Linked DNA regions of Homo sapiens: region 2 is linked to region 1. A link means that fine-mapping ties the variant in region 1 to the expression of a gene that starts in the linked region. Tissue or cell type: naive CD8 T cells. Region 1 holds a variant in brackets; the other region holds the start of a gene. All regions are shown on one strand. Distances are from middle to middle. Region 1 has its middle 39 kb from the start of MEAK7. Region 2 holds the start of MEAK7 (MTOR associated protein MEAK7).

Region 1 (11,657 bases):
AGCAGCCCCAGACTCACTGCCCAGCCATCTCATGCTGACTATCCTATGGGCGCCCCTTCTAGAAATGCCCTCAAAATGTGTTTGGTGATTGATTAATTGACCATTGGCCTCAAGCCCATTTCTAGCTGAGCTATTGACTTTTGTGCTGGGGGTTTAGAGAAAATCCTATCCTCTATTGTCATTTTCTTTCTCCTGTTTAAAAACAAAGCAAAGCAAACAAACAAAACTCCTTCACAAGGAGGCTGGGAGGGCGCACAATATAGACAGCTGTGAAAAAGGCTGGTGTGGGGAGAAGCTTCTCTCTCTCTCTCCATGCACACAATGTATATTATCTAAGGCTGTGTCAGCAAGCTATATATCTTTGACCCTTCAAAGTCTGGCTCTTTGTAACTCATTGCAAAGAATTCTCTTGGGGGCACTCAGTTCTGTGAGGGACAGATAGCCGCCTCTCCCAAGGAAGCGGATTCGACTCTGGGAGATAAATCTTCTTCGCTTCCTTCCTCTCTGAGACGATTATGAAGAAAGTGCTCCCATAGTCCTGGCAGGAACAAAGGCCCTGTGTCCAGAGAGGCTCCCCCACCCGACCTCTCATGCATTATGAATGGGGCCTCAAGATCATTTCACAAGCTTTTCACGCTCCGAAATGGCCACTCCCCAGCCTTAGGCTGCCCAGCTGTCGGAGACCCCTTGGCCCCTTCAGGGCTATGTCCCCCATGGCTCCTTCACGCCAGCCCCAGGGGACTGACAACCTCTCAGCCATAAATGTCAGCCAGGCCTTCTGCCGATGCCACCGGGGGATGCGGAGGGTAATCGGGACATGCTCTGTTGTCCCATCAGTAAAATTATTAGGAATTTCAAAGAATTAAATCCCAAGCACAGGCCCTTCTGAGTGCAGGGCCCTTGGCTGCTGCCCTGGGAGATAATTACCCACGAGACTGGCCCTGACTGTAGCTATAATTTCAACTTATCCATCACCCTGATTCTTTGACTCAGGAAAGTTATTCATTAAATAAATATTTTTCTAAGAATTTCAGAGCATCCACTAAAGCAGACCATAGATCTGCACCATAACCCAGCATTTTCACTGTGTATACACCCAGAAGGGGGATGTGTGTGGATAAGGAGTTGAACTAGAATGTTCTTTGCAACACTGTTCACAATAGCCCCACATTGGAAACCACCCAAATGCCCATCAATAGTAGAATGGCTAAATAAATGTGGTCTGTCCAAGTGATGGAAAACCACACAGAAAGAAGAATGGCTTCAAACTACACACAATATGGCCGACTCTCACAAACAATACGGAATGAAAGAAGCCAGACACAACAGCGTACACAGCATATGGTTCTGTGCTGTTGGAAGTTCGAGTCACGCTTACTGTTGAGGGTGACTCAATAGGGGGCATGAAGTGGGGCTTGGGGGCTGACACTAGTGTGTTATTGACCTGAATGCCATTGCATGGTTGTGCTTAGTGTGTGAGTGTTCTTGGAGCTGTACACTTCAGACGTGTGCACTTCTCTGTATATACTGTATCTCAATAAAAAATAAAAGTTGCTTCTCAGAATGGGGGCTTAAAAAATAAAAATAAGGCCGGGCGTGGTGGCTCATATCTGTAATCCCAGCACTTTGGGAGGCCAAGGCAGGCGGATCACCTGAGGTCAGGAGTTCAAGACCAGCATGGCTAACATGATGAAACCCCATCTCTACTAAAAATACAAAAATTAGCCGGGTGTGGTGGCACATGCCTGTAATCCCAGCTACTCATGAGGCTGAGGCAGGAAAATCACTTGAACCTGGGAGGTGGAGATTGCAGTGAGCCGACATCACGCCACTGCACTCCAACCTAGGCAACAAAGCTAGACTCCATCTCAAATAAATAAATAAATAAATAATACAAATCAAAAAGTAAAAGTAAAAGATAAATAAATAAACCTTTCTAGAGGGCTCACTGTGAGAAGCCTTAGGGAGGTTAAGGAGCTGACTCTGCCCCTCCTCAGTGCAACTCTTCCTTCCAGTCCTTGGTTTCCTTTGACTGCAGCTCCCTGACAGTAGATGTGATTCTGCGACACTCAGAATACCTCCTGGAGTACAGAGGTACGAGAGTGAACCAGTAGGCTCGACGCCCTAACGTACGGTGCCTGGATGTCCTTTTTGAATCTGTTGATGGTTTCTGTTTAGGTTCTGTTAACATTGGATGAGCACCCAATGTGCCAGGTCCTGGGGACACAAGGATGAGGAAGTCCCTGCCCTCAAAGAGCTCAGGATCTGGAGAGAAAGGACCCCTCAATTAGAGTCCAGTGTGTTAAATGCCCCCCAGGGAGACTCGGGAGGATGAGGGAGGCTGGGAAGATTCTACAGGCCCAGGGAGAGAGGCCAGTGGAGAATGAGGGGTGAGGGGAACTCCCAGTGGCTCAGGACCCACTAGGCCTCAATGTGCGATGGGCATCAAGAGGCTGAACTTGCTGGCATCAGGGGTCCTGCCAACACTCCTCAGAATCTCTGATTTACAGTATCGGGGTAGTCACATGAGAACGAAGCTCAGCTACAAGTGCACACTACAGCATTGTTTAAAACAGTGACAAAATGGAAAGCAAGCTACGTTTCCAAAGATGGAAGATTAACCCAAAGAATGATAGAGGGGCCAAATGAGGGGACTCTGGTAGAACCTGGAAGTGATGCTGGGGAAGACTGTTTCATGATTCTCAAGGCCCATGGATGAGCTGGGATTTGACCCTCTGTGAAAGCCCCCAGGTGAGCCTGCTGCAGTGCCATGGTTGCTGGCAGAAGACACGAGCCTCCTGGGTCAGAGACAAGTGACTTTATTACTCGCAGCACAGCAAGTAGCATGAGCTTTATGTTTGCATCGGTTTCCCTTGTCCCCAAGTCCCACAGGGGCCATGCAAAGGGGCCCGGAAGGGGTGGGTGTTGCGCACACAGCACATTTCTCACAGCTGAGGATCCCTGAGCTCAGGGAGCCCAAATTTCTTATAAGAAATCCTGATCCTTGCCCTGGGGGCAAACATCTATCTATATTGGACAGAAAACAAATTTGCCCTTTGATCTGAGGGGACACACTGTCTCTGTCTAACAAAGTTGTTTGCTATATAAACATCCTTGTAAAGATAGTTCTTCTACTTGCAAGACATGTAGAAACCTGAGAGACCCATGGAGAACTGTCTCCCAACAATGACACAGAAAGAAAATTTAGGCCGGGCATGGTGGCTCACGCCTGTAATCCTAGCACTTTGGCAGGCTGAGGCGGCTAGATAACCTGAGGTCAGGAGTTCGAGACTAGCTTGGCCAACAAGGCGAAACCCTGTCTCTACTAAAAATACAAAAATTAGCCAGGCATCATGGCATGCACCCAGCTACTTGGGAGGCTGAGGTGTAGTCCCAGCTACTTGGGAGGCTGAGGCAGGAGAATCACTTGAACCCAGGAGCCGGAGGTTGCAGTGAGCTGAAATTGCTCTACTGCACACCAGCCTGGGTGACACAGCAAGACTCCATCTCAAAAAAAAAGAAAAGAAAAGAAAAAATTTAGAGTCGCCAAGAAACAGATAACAAAACAGTATACATGTGTGAATCTGCACATTTGGTGTCTGCATGTGCATATTACGTAGGCACTAATACAAGCCCAGCAGAATATTCCCACAAATGTTCACAGGGGTTCTTGCTGGGCTTTCGTTCTATGATGAACAAAATAGTGACCATTGTACCTAGTAATCAATAGCCAACCCTTGCTATATGTTTGTAACATTCCAACCCCTGTTCTGAGCACATTACAGGTATCACCTCATTTAATCCTCATGACAAGCTGTGAGTCAGGAGCTGTTTATCATCTCCATTTTCAAGATGAAGCAAACCGAGGCCTGGAGTGGTCACTCAGTGGGGATTGAGTAGAGTTAGGATTCTGAATCCAAGTAGTGTGGCTGCAGGCTCCATCCTTTTTTTTTTTTTTTAGACAGGGTCTCATCGTTGCCGAGGCTGGAGTGCAGTGGTGTGATCTCAGCTCGCTGCAACCTCCGCCTCCTGGGCTCAAGCGATTCTCCCACCTCAGCCTCCTGAGTAGCTGGGACCACAGGCGCACACCACCACACCTGGCTAATTTTTGTAATTTTTGTAAGATGGGCTTTTGCCATGTTGGCCAGGCTGATCTTGAACTCCTGACCTCAAGTGATCTGCCTGCCTCGGCCTCCCAAAGTGCTGGGATTACAGGCATGAGCCACTGTGTCCAGCTTCATCCTCTTAAAACCACATTCCTTATGCCTTGAATAAAGCCTTATTATTATAGCAGAAAACGCCCTCTTTCCAGCAGCCTTTTATTTATAGATTTAATAAGTCTAAAATAGAAAGACAGGAATTGTTTTCTCTACTCAGAAAATTAAGTGAATCGAAAACCGACCGTAGTGGAATATGACGACTGTGTAATAACAGGCAAATGCAAAAATGATCACATCAAATGGCAGTTTATATAATTTATATGAAGCAATATTGCAAATTTATTTTAAAATACATATGCACAGGAAAAAAGCACTAGAACAAGATATACGAAGCTATGACTGTGTTTGCTTTAGGGGGCTGAACTCTTGGTGAATTTATTTTCTTTACTCCATTTTCTGAATTTTTCATAATGCAGTTATAGTTCTTTTATAATGAAAACAGTTATAAAAATGTAAAAAACAAAATGAAACAATGAAACAGATCTTGGGCTAGTAGAGAAAGCGAAGTCTAATCTAGACTAAAGGCTGTAAATTGGCCACTAGCAGGTCTGACTTGCCTGAAGAATGTTTTGCTTGGCTGAGTCTTTGTTGTTTAAAAAAATATATGCATTAGCCTCTGTCACTGTAAAGTCAGGAGATTTCAGATAAAACTCCATCTTTCCCTGGACGCTTGTATTCCTATGACCCAGCAAGTCCACTCCTAGGATATACGCAATAGAAATGTACACACCAAAAGCCTAGAATGTCCTAGAATGTTCATAGCAGCTCTCTTCATAATAGCTTCAAATAAGAAACCACCCCAATACTCATCACAGTGGAATGGGTGAATAAATAGGGGTGTAAATTTGTGAAAATCATGTATTGGTTGATGTCTTCTGTCTCCCCAAAACATATACAACCAACCATGAAAAACTGTGCAAAAGTTGAGAAAGAATGATTTACAACTAAACCCTAAATTTGTATGGAGTTCAGACACGACGGGGAGGGAAAGCAGCCAGACAAAAAGTCCACCCTGTGTGTAAAACATTAACACAAACCAGCAAAGCCAAGCTCAGGTGTTAGGTCCAGGCAG[C/A]GGTCAGCTCGGGATGAGGGTGGGGGCTGTAGCCTCAACTTCCCAGGCTCAAGCCATCCTCCCACCTCAGCCTCCTGAGTAGCTGGGACTCCAGGCCTGCACCACTATGCCCAGCTAATTTTTAATCTTTTTTTTTTTTTTTTTTTGAGACAGAGTTTTGCTTTTGTTGCCCAGGCTGGAATGCAATGGTGCAATCTTGGCTCACTGCAATCTCCTCCTCCCGGGTTCAGGCGATTCTCCTGCCTCAGCTTCCCGAGTAGCTGGGACTACAGGCATGCACCACCATGCCCAGCTAATTTTGTATTTTTAGTAGAGACAGGGCTTTGCCATGTCGGCCAGGCTGGTCTCCAACTTCTGCTCCTGACCTCAGGTGATCTGCCCGCCTTGGCCTCCCAAAGTGCTGGGATTACAGGCGTGAGCCACCGCGCCCAGCCTTTAAATTTTTTTTTACAGTGATAGGGGTCTCATTATGTTGCCCAGGCTTGTCTCAAACTCCCGGGCTCAAGTGATCCTCTTGCCTCAGCCTCCAAAAGTGCAGGGATTGCAGTCGTGAGCCACTGCACCCAGCCCATATTTTTTTAAGTCAACCTACTGTGTGATTTTTTTTTCTGCCTTTCTCAGCATAACTCTAAGCAATAATGTCCACGAAGTCAGGGTTTCAGTGAGCTATAGAGTTCAGCAGTCAACAACACAGACAGTGGATCCAGAATGTCTAGGTTTAAAGCCTGCATCCTCTACAGTTGTGTGACTTTGGGCAAGTTACTTAAACTTCTTGGTCCTCAGTTTTCCCATCTGTAGAATGGGAATAATAATAATACCACATATCACAGGGTGGCCGAAAGGATTAAATGAGTGAATTATGTAGAGTTCTTAGAACAGCTGTGGGCATGCAGTGGTGTGCTGGTAACTGTTTAACAATGGCTTGGAAGGAAGGCCTTTACTGATTTCCAATTTCCCTGGTGTAAACACTTCCATTGTGGCTGATTTCAGGCTACCAATGAGAGGTCACTAAAGGTGGTTTTGGTAAAGGGGCCACTAGGTCATCCCAGGGTTGAAATAAGCAACTCTGTGACCACAGCCCAGATGTGCGTTTTGGAACAAAACCTAAGGAACCGTGGACAAGCCTTCTGACTTTAACTCTCTGGTTTGTTTTACGAGTCAGGGTCTCGCTCTGTCACCCAGGCTGGAGTGCAGTGGCACCATCATAGTTCACTGCAGCCTCGAACCCCTGAGCCCAGGTGATCCTCCCACCTTAGCCTCTTGAGTAGCTGGGACTACAGGCATGCCACCACGCCCAGCTAATTAAAAAAAATTTCTTTCATAGAGACAGGGTTTTGCCATGTTTTCCAGGCTGATATCACACTTCTGGGCTCAAGTGATCCCCCGCTCCAGCCTCCCAGAGTGGGATTACAAGCGCGAGCCACTGCGCCTGGCCTAGCCTCTGACATTAACTCTTATAAAAACACTGGAAAAGAAATATGACTCATGGGAAATTAAATAGCTGTCTTGTCCTTATAATGGATTCCTAGGGGTTCCCAGAGCACTCTGGGATGTGTGCACAGGGTCCTCCCTGCCAGGTGTCCCCAAGGGGAACATTCATTACAAACAGCGTTCACGCCACCTTCCTGCTTACCTGGTGCCCTGGCCTCGGCCGTCCCCTACCTTCCCTTTCTGGATTTATTAAAGATTCTTTTTACTTCTGTACACGTAACTCATGGAGGTGCCAGTTTGACCTTTGGAGAAATCTGTGTACAGCTCATCTCAACTTTCCCCACTTTTTATGTCATGAAGCCTGATCTACACACAGTTCGGAATTGCCCCCACACTCCCCCGCAGTCATTGTCACACTGCCAATATTTTACAACGGGAACGGAACACCTGTTTGCCGAGCACCCACGAGGGCCCAGGCATCCTCTTAGGTCTGGAACAGAGAAGGAAGGAAGCCAACGAAGCCACCCCCGAACACCGGCATCTGACAGAGGAGGCAGGCGGCGCCGGAGAACCCGAAGCAAACCATGTCATTGCAGCCCGAGACTCCTGCAAAGAAAATAAAGCAGACGAAGGGGCCTGGAGGCCTGAAACCTGGGCCGGGGGCATCAGGGGCTGCACACACCCTCATTTCACACCATCTGGGCATTTCCTCTGTGCCCCAGAGTCCCCAGGATCATTTCGTTTAAATGTGCAAAAATGAAATTCAATTTCTAACTGCACTCCGTGTGCTTATGAAGTAGTAGAAAACTCGGAAAGGTGGCACTTTAGGATAATTGACCTCGTTCAGGCTCAAAAGCCCCTTTGGCCAGTTCCTGGGTAAATTCAGGATTTGCATTCCATCGGGGCTATTCTCGGGTGTCCTCTCCTCCTGGCTGACCCCTGAGCCTGAATCCTGGGATTATTTTTAAAGCCTGGATATCACGCTGCTTCATGGTGCCGTGCAAAGCACTTGGTGTTTCCGTTACAGGGGGGACACCTGCCTGCTTCCAATTTTCGGCACTATAGATGATGCACGCTGCTGTCTCTGGAGGAATGTCACAGGATAATAGCTCATGTTCGAGGACTGCTTAGCCGGCCTGAAAGTTTTTGCAAGTATTAACTTATGTAATTCTCCCAACTCTCCTTGAGCAGAAGTTGCTATTGTTAGCTCCATTTTACAGATGGAGAAACTAAGGCACGGAGAGGTGAGGTGACGATAAGTGGCAGAGCTGGGATCTGAAGTGTCACAGAGAAGGGTGGGGAGGAGCTGGCACAGAGAGAAACAGCAAAAGTGGATTGCCTTCGCTCCATGCTCAGGACAAGTCTCCCTCTGATTAAGTGCACTGTGTTGAGAGGCCCCTGGGGAAGGTCTCAAAGCCATCACCCACAGCACAGATGGTGGAAGCTGGCACCCCTGCCATGCTGTGCTGGAAGTGTGCTTTGGTTACAGCCTGTGTGAAGGGCGACTTGACAGAGGCTGTCTCCATGTCAAAGGTGCATGTCCTGACCAGGGGCGGTGGCTCACGCCTGGAATCCCAGCACTTTGGGAGGCCGAGGTGGGTGAATCTCCTGAGGTCAGGAGTTTGCCAGCCTGGCCAACATGGTGAAACCTCGTGTCTACTAAAAATACAAAAATTAGCCAGGCATGGTGGCAGACACCTGTAATCCCAGCTACTCTAGAGGCTGAGACAGGAGAATCACTTGAACCCAGAAGGCAGAGGTTACAGTGAGCGGAGATCGCGCCACTGCACTCCAGCCTGGGACAGAGCGAGACTCCATCTCAAAAAAAATAAAAAATAAAACATGGTGCACGTCCTCTTTTGACCCTCTGCTGGCTATCTGTCCTCGGGAAATACCTGCCCATGTGCATGAAGAGGCATGGATGCTTATGCAGGGATGTTCCTTGCAGCATTGTTTGCAACAGTAAAGAATTGGAAATATCCTAAAATGCTCATCAGTAAGTGAGTGGTTAAATGATGGTACATTTACACTATGGAATCTGTTACCATAAGAAAGAATGCTATGTCTATATCTGGGTTTCTCAACATGGGTACAAGTGACATTTGGGCTGGATCATCCTTTGTGGTTGGGGGGGGGAGTGTCCTGTGCATTGCAGGAGGTTTAGCGGTATCCCTGGCTCTACCTACCAGATGCCAGTAGCACCAGCCTCCTTGGTGTGACACCCAGAAATGCATCCAGACATTGCCGAGTGTTCCCTGGGGGCAAAATTGCCCGTGGTTGAGGACAGCCAGTCTATATGCAGTGAAGTATAAAGGTCTCCAAAACAGACTAATACATGAAAAAAAAAGTTACAGAACTGTCTGCATTAAAAAAATACAATGCTGGTCAGGTGTGGTGGTTCAAATCTGTAATCCCAGATTTCTATTCTAAAAAATAGAAAAACGTAACTGGGCGTGGTGGTGCACACCTGTAGTCCCAGCTATTCAGGAGGCTGAGGTAGGAGGATTGCTTGAACCCGGGAGGCAGAGGTTGCAGTGAGCCGTGATGGCACCACTGCACTCCAGCCTGGGCAGCAGAGCAAAATCATGTCTCAATAAATAAATAAATAAATAAATAAAGCTAAGCTATTTATCTATATAGACATAGATACAGATACAGAGTCATGCATTCAACGAGTTTTATTGAGCACCTGCCCCATGCCTGGAACTGTTCTTGGTGCTGAGCAAGTAACGACGATCAAAATGAAGTCTCTGCTCTACTGGAGATTACCCTCTGGAGATTACACTTTGTCTTCTGGCGGGGAAAGACAGCAATGAACAAGCGAATAGACACACGGTATCAGGTGGTGATAAGTGCTACAAAGAAACATAAGTGGGGCTCGGGGACCTCGAAAAGACACAGGTGCTGTTTTAGAATGGGGTCAGGGCAAGGTGACATTCTACTCCACTAAGGTGACATTGAGCAGGGAGCTGCATGAATGAGGGACCAGCATGGGTACTTAGAGGTCAGTGGGCTCCAGGCACAGCAGGAGTCCCCCTGAGGCAGGATGGTGCTGTGTGAGCAGGAGGCCCAGCGAGGAGACCCGAGGGCCTGCAACAGAATAAATGAGGACCGTGGTGGGCGACGAAGCCAGTGAGACATTGGGGGCACAACCACAGCCGGCCTTGTTGCATAGCACTGACTTTGCTTTTCGCCTCGAGAACTGGAGCGATCAGGAGAAAATCCAGCTTGGAATGTAAAGAGGCCACGGTGGACGGTTCTGGGAGTAACGGAAGAGAAAAGGGGGAGGGGGAGAGGGAGAGAGAAAAGGAAGAAAGGGAGGAAAGCAAGGAGGGAAGAGGGGAAACACCAGATTGTCCAGCTCACTGACGAGTTCAAATCCCAGCTCCTCCACCTCCTCAGGCAACCAGCTTCGTCTCTCTGAGCCTCAGTCTCCTGTTGTGTAAAATGGTTTAACCACGCCGCCTCTCATAGGAGAGAATGATGTCACCAAAGTTCCCACTACGGCGCTTTTTCCGTAGGTCCCAAGTGAAAACAGAAGCTTCCCTCTGTCCTGCCCCTACCCCCAGAAGACCCAGCCAACTCCTCTGCAGCAGCAGCGCTGTGGCTCAGGGGCCCCTGTTTAGGCTGTAGGCTCCATGGAGGCCCAGAGGGAATGCCTTTCCACACGTCAAAGAAACCTGAGACTCAAAGAAACCTGAGACCCTAAGGTCGTATCAACTGCAGACCTTTGGGCCTAATGGCTATTGCCACGAAGAGCCTTTTAGAAAAACATCTCAGCAGGGGCCGGGTTTGAAGGCCCCCAGGGGCTTGTGGGAGGCAACATTTTCTTCTGTCTGACAGCCCCCTCCAACTCCCCCAGCCCGGGATCCCTCCCTGACAGCTGGTGGGCTGAGCCTGCTTCCCGAGGCTGGGCTTTGGGGTTGGGGTCTCTTTGTCAGCCCAGGAATAACCCAGCACCCACCCGCCCAACCCACACACATACACAAACAGTTCATTCACCCTGCAGGAGAGGTCAGGCCCTCCCACAGCATCTGCCCAAGATGCTCGCAAATCCACGGGGACAATCCCAGGCCTGGGGCATCTCCATGTCACATAGGAGGGGGGGGGGTGCTCAGCCGAAAGCGGGGCCTCGAGAGGCTCTAAAGACAGCAGCACACGGCTGGGCGCGGTGGCTCACGCCTGTAATCCCAGCACTTTGGGAGGCTGAGGCAGGCAGATCACCTGAGGTCAGGAGTTTGAGACCAGCCTGACCAACATGGAGAAACCCTGTCGTTGCTAAAAACACAAAATTAGCTGGACGTGGTGGCAAATGCCTGTAATCCCAGCTACTCAGGAGGCTGAGGCAGGAGAATCACTTGAACCCAGGAGGCGGAGGTTGCGGTGAGCCGAGATTGTGCCATTGCACTCCAGCCTGGGCAGCAACAAGAGTGAAACTCGATCTCAAAAAAAAAAAAAAAAAAAGCAGCACAGGGCTCACTTTTCCCTCAGACCCTGCAGGGCCATGGAAACAGCCACAGGGGCTCAGGCAGCTGAAGAGAATGTTCTAGAATCCACAAAGAGCCTGGCCTGGCAGGAGCCTGGGGACCTGGAGATGCAGCCGGGTGCATCTATTCAGGCTTTCAAGCCTCCAGCAACCTGGAGACCTGCTGTCTCCACGCCTCGCCTCTCACACGGAGCCAGCCTGTGGGGCGAGTGGCTGCCTGCTTCCACCACCCCGACTCCTCCGTGTTGGTTGGCCAGGGTAATGAGAATGTGCTTGTTTTGATGAAATGTCAATCACTTGTATATAAATATCTATATTTAGGACTCCTTTAGAAAATAAGAAAATCTGGGAGCACACAGTCACCATGCAGCTGCCCTCTTTAGAAAGACACGCGCCCTCCCCTGGCCACAGTCCCCACCTCTCCCTGTTGTCTCCTTGGTGCCCAGCC
Region 2 (8,000 bases), 38 kb before region 1:
AGGCGGCTGTCCCCAGCTCTGAAACAGAGGGGCTGCACCGGCTGAGTCTGGGTGCTGCAGGGACACAGCCCAAGCAGCCAAAACAAAGCAGACCCACCCTCTGCATCAACTCGAAGAGCCTGCAAGGTGGGCCACACCATCTCCTGAGGTCAGGAGTTCGAAACTAGGTTGGCCAACGACATGAAACCCCATCTCTACTAAAAATACAAAAAAATTAGCCAGGCATGGTGCTGTGCACCTGTAATCCCAGCTACTTGGGAGGCTGAGGCAGAAGAATTGGTTGAACACGGACAGCGGAAGTCGCAGTGAGCCGAGACCACGCCACTACACTCCAGCCTGGGCAACAGAGTTAGACTCGTCTCAAAAAAAAAAAGAAAAAAAAAAAAAAAAAAAAGAGGGGAAACAGAGACAAGGGCATGGGGATGGGTGTGGCCTGGGGGTGTAACAAGAAGAGTGAAGAGTGGAAAAGGTCCCAAAGGTCACATTCCAGCTGAGTCTTCAGAGACTCACAGGTGATTCACCAGGAAGTGGGAACAGCACGCACGGGGCATAAGCAAGAGCGTTGGGATCAGCGAGGCAAGGGTGGAACTCAGGGCACGTGGGGGAGGGCAGCAGAGGGCTGCAGCAGAAGGGGGCCCAGGCCTGACTCCACCCAGCCCCTCACTTCCATCCCACCCCAACTCCCACTTTCTGCCAGAAACAGGCTCCCCCACTGTGGTCGGAGAACAGCAGCAGGGTGCAGCCTGGCCAGCCCTCACCAACCCCAGACAGCCGGGAGAAAGGTGCAGGGCTGGGCAAGTGCCAACAGGCAGGACAGGAACCCAGAAATGCACAGAAGCGGCGCAGACCAGGGCAGGCCCAGGAGATGACAGGAAAGGCTTGGACGCAGAGCCAGGCTGGCAACGCCACTTTTTCAAGCAGGAGAGAGGAGGTTGCATGGGAGGCCCCAGTAGGAACCCCAGGGCTGGTGCCAGTGAGGTGGGAAGGTGGGCAGCCCCTAAGAACACAGCGCTGTCCACAGCACTGCCATTCTTAGTACCTGCAGAGTGCTGGTGAAGGGACACGTCTCAGAACGGCTCAAGGACAGCCCGTCTCCTTTGAGAGCCCCGTGCCAGGCAAGATAAAGAAATGGCAATGGTGTGGTGGCTCACGCCTGTAATCCCAGCACTTTGGGAGGCCGAGGCGGGTGGATCTCCTGAGGTCGGGAGTTCGAGACTAGCTGGACCAACATGGAGAAACCCTGTCTCTACTAAAAATACAAAATTAACCGGGTGTGGTGGTGCATGCCTGTAATCCCAGCTACTTGAGAGGCTGAGGCAGGAGAATTGCTTGAACCCAGGGGGCGGAGGTTGCAATGAGCCAAGATCATGCCATTGCACTCCAGCCTGGGCAACAAGAGTGAAACTCGGTCTCAAAAAAAAAAAAGACAATGCACGCTGGTGCTGGTGCTGACAGCGCACATCAAGGTTGCTTGTACCAGTGGAGCTCGACTGGAGCAGTTTCGTCCCCCAGGGGCATTTGGCAATGACTGGAAAAGTGTGTGGTTGCCACAACTGGGGGAGGGGAGTGCCGTTGGCATCTAGCAGGCAGAGGCCAGGGATACTGCTAAAAATCCTACAGTGCACAGGATGGCCTTACGACGAGGAAGTGTCCGTCCCAGACATCGGTAGGGCTGAAGGTGAGAAAACCTGGCTTCTGAGGATGTAGGGCAGCGGAACAAAATGGAAGCGGAACTTGATACAAGGGAACCCACAGAAGTCTCGAGGCCAATGTAGGGTTGTGTTATGCACAGCTTTGCAGAGAAGAGGCCACCCCATGTACCCAGGTGTACTGTGAAAGTCCCATGACACCGAGAAAACTTGCCAGGGACTGAAAGCTTTCCATCATCAAGCCTATAATCCCAGAACTTTGGGAGGATCATTTGAGGCCAGGAGTTTGAGACCAGCCTGGGCAACATAGTGAGACTTCGTCTCTGCCAAAAATACAAACCTCAGCCGGGTGTGGTGGCGTGTGACTATAGTTCCAGCTATTCAGGAGGCTGAGGTGGGAAGATCGCTTGAACCAGGAGGCAGAGGTCGCAGTGAGCCAAGATCACAACAGTGCACTCCAGCCTGGGTGACAGAGCAAGACTCTGTCTCATAAAAACACAAACAAAAGTTCCAGCAGCCCATAATAAGTGACCAAGATGTTTTGCTTGACCAGACTTTAGTCAGGCTCCTGGGCCCATCTGTGTACCTCTTTGTAAAATCTGGTTTTAGCAAAACAAAAAACAAACAAACAAAAAAACCCACAAAACCACTCATCCTTGATATTTGATCACCATTATCTGTTCACTTGCTATCTAACCAGGTTTAATGCTTAGGTTAGGGATATCCAATCTTTCAGTTTCCCTGGGCCACACTGGAAGAACTGTCTTGGGCCACACATAAAACCCACTAACAATAACTGATAAGTGCATATATCTACATATATGGTAAAAAAAAAATCTCATGTTTTAAGAAAGCTTATGAATTTGTGTTGGATGTCATTCAAAGCCGCCTTAGGCCACATATGGCCCACGGGTTGGACGAGCTTGCCCTAGGTGATGTCTGATCACCCTGGCCTGCCTTCAGTAACAAACTGCTAGGTAAGCTTACCCAGAATCCACCCTAGCGCCCTGATGTTTCCTCAGTCATCTTCCATCCACTGATCCCCACCCTGCTTCCTGGCTTCCCACTTGCCCATGCTATAATCAGAGTTGAGCCCAATCTCTCTCCTTTACTACAAAATCCCATTGCTGTGGTCCCTATACCCATTGCAATGGTCTTCAATAATTAATGTGCTTTTAATAAGCATCATTAATTAATTTCTTTAACATAAGGTTGAGAAGATTAAATAAGGTAACCCAGGGCATTTGATCTGCTTACTGGAGGTCAGAGACAGAATAATGGGCCCAAGACAACAGAGAATGGCTCCTTGGGATCTTGTCTTAGAACAAGAGAAACTGCCCTGCTTGGAAGAAACGGAAGGTTGCTCTGCCTCCGTGATGGAGGGGTGGACAGGGACCGATTGTCTGCAGGATGGCCCCCAAGGTTCCCACTAGTATCCTAGGAATGGCTTAGTCACCTCCTGCTCAGAGCTTCTCCAACAGGCTGTTACATGGCTGCTTCCCACCCTGGCTGCCAAGCTCCAACTCTCTACTCCAAGGGCCCCGCATCCCTAGAGCCACACAAGGGTCCCTCCGTACCCCCACAAGCTGGGGAGATTCCAACTGCCTCATCTGGACAGGCTTCGAAGTCCTGTCTGTGTCTCAGAGCCCAGAGGCCCTTGTGCGAAGGGGCAGCTTGAGCCTGGGCAAGAAGTTCCTGTGGGCCAGAAGGTGACCTGTCCTGTGCTGGCCACCTACATGGCCTGGGAACAGTTATCAGCTCACTGTCCTGGAAAAGCCCAGATGGGTGTGGTCAGAATACAAGAAGGAAAACCCCCTCCACACACACTTCAGTGTCTACCCCAGACTCGCCTCCTCCGTGGAGGCACCCCTCCCTTTCCGCGTCTACACAGGCTCTGAATCCCCCTTCAACACGGCTGGCCTTGGCCCTGGGGGAAGCACCTCGCCACCCTCTTACCTTGACCACATAAACAGCGGGAGGTGCAGGATGATTCTGATCCCCCCCAGGAGACCCTCCCTCCATCCCGCCCCGCTGTCCCCACCCCTCACCTCCCCGCAGCCTTCACCTCTCCCTCCCCCGACCCGAGGGCCTGAAGAGGCGTGGGAGGCCAGGGAGGGGCAGGGCCCAGGCCTACTCTGGACCCGTCTGCTCCAGTCCCCCGACTCAGCTGGGCCTGCGCCTCTGGGTCAGCTCACTGCGAACCTCAGCCCAGGTACCTACCCTGCCGGGCTTCCTGGTGCTGTCCGGTCCGGTCCAGCAGCCCACGGGCTCCTCTCGAGAGCCGCCCCTTCCCTGTTGCCAGGCAACATTGCTGAGGGGCAGTCATTTGGTCCAATCGTGGAAGCGGAGGTGTGGGGCGGAACCCAAGAGAGGAGTCAGCCAATGGTGACGCGCCTCACAGGGAGTGAGCCGAACCCGGTGGGTGCGGCTCGGGGCGGGGCCGCGGTCTGCGGGAGGAGCGGCTGCAGGCCCGGGAATCCGGCCCGGCTGCGTGCGTACCAAGGAGGCGCCTGGAGAGGGCGGCCAATGACTCAGGCCAGGCCAGGCCAGCAGTGGTACCTGGGGAGAAGGGGTGTCTGGGCTGGGCGCTGGAGCGGAGTAGCCAGGGTGTGGGAGATCCTGGGGGAGAGGCTGAGCTTGGGGGTGAAGACACCCGGGGGAGGAGAGTGGCCCATGTGGAGCCCATGCAGAGGCCTCTGCAGTGCAGCCTCCTGGGCCCCAGGCAACTCTCCCCTGACTCCCCGGCCTGCTGGTCCTGGCCTAGAGCCTCGGGTCCGCCTCCCCTCGGGCCTCCCTCTGCCAGCTGCCCCTGCCTCGCTCTTCCCTGGCACCAGGTCCTTCCCGGCAGCCATCAGGCGCCAGCTCCACAGCCTGGCTAAACAGACTCCCTCCACCCCACGTGCGCCTCTTCAGCCGGTTCCCGTTCACTCCAAGACGTCTGAACCTGTCACCCCACTTCTTCAGCTCGTTCCTTCTCAAACCCACCGAAACCTGGTCCCGGGGGCCTGCTCACTACATCCGAGGTGCGCTTTGGGTCCTCGCAGGCAGCATTTGGCGCTTGGTGATCGTGCTCTCATCAGACCTCTCTCTTGGGCACCCCGGCGCCCATTCCTGGCCCTGGCTCGCTCGCTGTCCCTGGTGGTCTTCCCTGGGCCCTTCTGGCTTCTGCCCTGGAGTTTCTCGACTTCTCCCTACTCTCTCCACCCCACGCATCCTCCCTGGGGTCCACCTTCCTGCAGATTCAGCTCCCGCATGTCCATGGTACCAGTTCTCTCCCCTGCACGGCCTGCTGGTTTTCCAGCCTGGAAAACCGTGACTTCGCCCGCCAACGTCCGCTTGAGTTGGTCTCGAACTCCTGACCTCAGGTGATCTGCCTGCCTCGGCCTCCCACAGTGCTAGAATTGTAGGGGTTAGCCACTGCACCCGGCTGGTCACCTCTTATTCTTTAAGCTGGAACAAAAATAGAAGGCTTTCTGCCTGAGGGCAGCAGGCCTGGCTGGTGACAGTGCACAAGGTAGGGCCCCTCACCAAGACATTGCTCTGAGATCCAAGGCCAATGTCCCAGGAGAAGCAGCTCCACAAACTAACGCATCTACAGCCAGGGTACCCCCAGCTGTGGATGCCAATGACACGAGTAGCCCCAGCTCTTCACCTCGGCTTCTTAGAGTAGGTGCCTGTCACCTGCAGCCAGGGCTCCTGATGCCCAAGACACACGGGCCTTTAGACATGAAGGACTAGACCCTGTTTCCAGCCTTCACACCCCTGTACTTCCTGCACACATCAACCAGGTGTGTCTTTTTCAGTGCCATCCGAGGTAGTGGCATTTTTGACATAGCAACAGTTTTTTGTAGGCTGAGGCACACCAAGGGTGGACAGCAATGGTGGCCTCTCAGGTGCAGGTACTGGGGGGTCCGCAGGAGCAAACCGGAGCCGATGTGTCAGCCTGGGCAACATAGTGAGACTCCATCTCTACAAAAAATGAAAAGCTTGGCCGGGCGTGGTATGGCACACCCGTAGTCCCAGCTACTCAGGGAGCCGAGGCAGGAGGATCGCTTGAGCCTCAGAGGGCGAGACTGCAGTGAGCCGTGATTGCACCACTGCACTCCAGCCTGGGCAGGAAAGTGAGATCTTGTTATTAAAACGGTGAAACAAAATCCCCCAGAAAACCACAGAAGCAAATGCGGAGCGGCGCCGTTTGAGAGCTACCGAAGTGGCGCCACCTCGTGGCCATACCCTCCAGAAACAGCCTACACTCCAATCTGCCCACCTGCCTGGTTGGAAAGTTTCTGTTTTTGATGGAGTTTCACTCTTGTTGCCCAGGCTGGAGTGCAATGGCGCAATCTCGGCTCACTGCAGCCTCCACCTCCCAGGTTCAAGCAATTCTCCTGCCTCAGCCTCCCGAGTAGCTGGGATTACAGGCATAGGCCACCACACCCAGTTAATTTTTATATTTTTAGTAGAGACGGGGTTTCACCACGTTGGCCAGGCTGGTCTCGAACTCCTGACCTTAGGTAATCCACCCACCTCGGCCTCCCAAAATGCTGGGATTACAGGCATGAGCCACCGCCCCTGGTATTCTCAATTTTTTTAAATAAGAGATTTATATTGCTTGACATTTTGCATATAAAGTGAGACTCTTTTAAAAATATACATCATGCTATTTCAACAAGCTGGTGCTCCCGGGGATGTCCATGGGCTGTCCAACTGCCCCCGGGGCACCAGCTTCTGTTTTTTATGCTGACTTTGGGCACTGAACTCTCCTTGGCTCCCAGAGGTCCTGACCAGGCTGGTCCTGCCATCCACAGCGGTGCCTCTGCTAGCGACATCCCTGCCCAATTTTCCATGTCCAGCTTTGACACCTCCACAGAAAGGCTGAGCCACCACCGGGCCCCCATTGTGGCTGAGCATCCACTCTCTCTTCCCCATGTGCTCCTTGCCCCCGACTCCCCATCTCTGGAACCCAAGTTTGGGCTGCATGGACCACCTTCTGGGCCAGGCTGTTAGGAGGCCACCACCAAGCAGCAAACGCAGGAGCAGCCGTGCCCTGAGGAGGCACCACCAGCAGCCTCCAGCAGCACTCGGTGAGGCGGGCAACGATCCATCTGTGCCGCCAGCATGGAGCCGGAAGCCACGGCTGACTTGTGCAGTAGAGGAAGTCGAGTTCATTTTATTGAATTTATTCTCATTTTCAGTTTGAATGGCCACATGTGGCAGGCAGTTATTCTATTGTGCAGTGCTTGCCGGACCACATGCAACAATTCAAAATTGAAAATCAAAAATAAATGTACGGCTCACCCACTAGGATAGCTAACGTTTTTGTTTTGTTTTTGAGACAGGATCTTGCTCTATCACCCAGTCTGGAGTGCAGTGATGCAATCACGGCTCAGCTCACTGCAGCCTCGACCTCCCAGGCTCAAGCCATCCTCCCACCTCAGCCTCGTAAGTAGCTGGGACCACCGGCGTACCCCACCACACCAGGCTATTTTTATTTTTTGTAGAGATGGGGCCTCGCGATGTTGCCCAGGCTGGTCTCGAACTCCTGGGCTCAAGCGATCCTCACACCTTGACCTCCCAAAGTGCTGGGATTACAGACATGAGCCACCATGCCCGGCCTAAGAGGGCTAAAGTTTTTTAAATAGCGAGTGTTGGAGAGGAGGTAGTTCTCTCCTCCCGCACTGCTGGTGAAATGGTTCAGCCATGGGGGAAATCAGTCCTCAAAAAGTTAAACAGAGTTACCATAGGACCAGCAGTCCCACGCCTAGATACACCACAAAGCTGAAAACCTGTATTCAAACACACACTAGTACTGGATGTTCAAGCAGCACTGTTCACGATAGCCTAAAGTGGAAAAAAGATAAAAGCCCATCTGAAGAATGGATAGACAAGATATGGTATATCCACACAATGGAATAATATTTGGCAATTTAAAAAAAAGGAATGAACCACTGACACATTACAACGTGGATAATCCTTGAAAATCTGATGTTATGGCCAGGCGCAGTGGCTCATGCCTGTAATCGCAGCACTTTGGGAGGCCGAGGTAGGTGGATCACCTACCTCGGTGGATCACCTGAGCTCAGGAGTTTCAGACCAGCCTGGCCAACATGGTGAAACCCTGTCTCTACTAAAAATACAAAAATTAGTCGGGCATGGTGGTGGGCGCCTGTAATTTTAGCTACTCAAGAGGCTGAGACGTGAGAATTGCTTGAATCCAGGAGGCAGAGGTTGCAGTGAGCCAAGATCGCGCACTGCACTACAGCCTGGGTGACAGAGTAAGACTTTGCCTCAAAAAAAAAAAAAAAAAAAAACTGTGGTTACGTGAAAGCAGCCAGACACAAAGGACCACATATT

The links.
Region 2: it holds the start of MEAK7, and the variant in region 1 is fine-mapped to the expression of MEAK7 in naive CD8 T cells (Schmiedel 2018, PIP 0.95).

The regions. Positions count from the first base shown.
Region 1 is chr16:84,537,389-84,549,045 of GRCh38, forward strand. No RefSeq gene overlaps it. Among named protein-coding and RNA genes, the nearest start is that of MEAK7, 39 kb to the left of the region's middle. RefSeq lists a silencer at 3,675-3,969 and enhancers at 6,759-7,260, 7,261-7,760, 9,250-10,001, 10,002-10,752, 11,504-11,657. The variant C/A (reference allele first, on the strand shown) is at 5,293.
Region 2 is chr16:84,500,732-84,508,731 of GRCh38, forward strand. MEAK7 (MTOR associated protein MEAK7) reads right to left here and starts at 3,928. Exons shown (of 8, transcript NM_020947.4): 1 at 3,870-3,928. LOC124903736 (a long non-coding RNA gene) reads left to right here and starts at 4,071. Exons shown (of 2, transcript XR_007065149.1): 1 at 4,071-4,204; 2 at 6,615-6,948. RefSeq lists enhancers at 3,338-3,838, 3,959-4,906, 4,269-4,388, 6,516-7,016 and silencers at 3,669-3,718, 5,904-6,023, 6,007-6,243.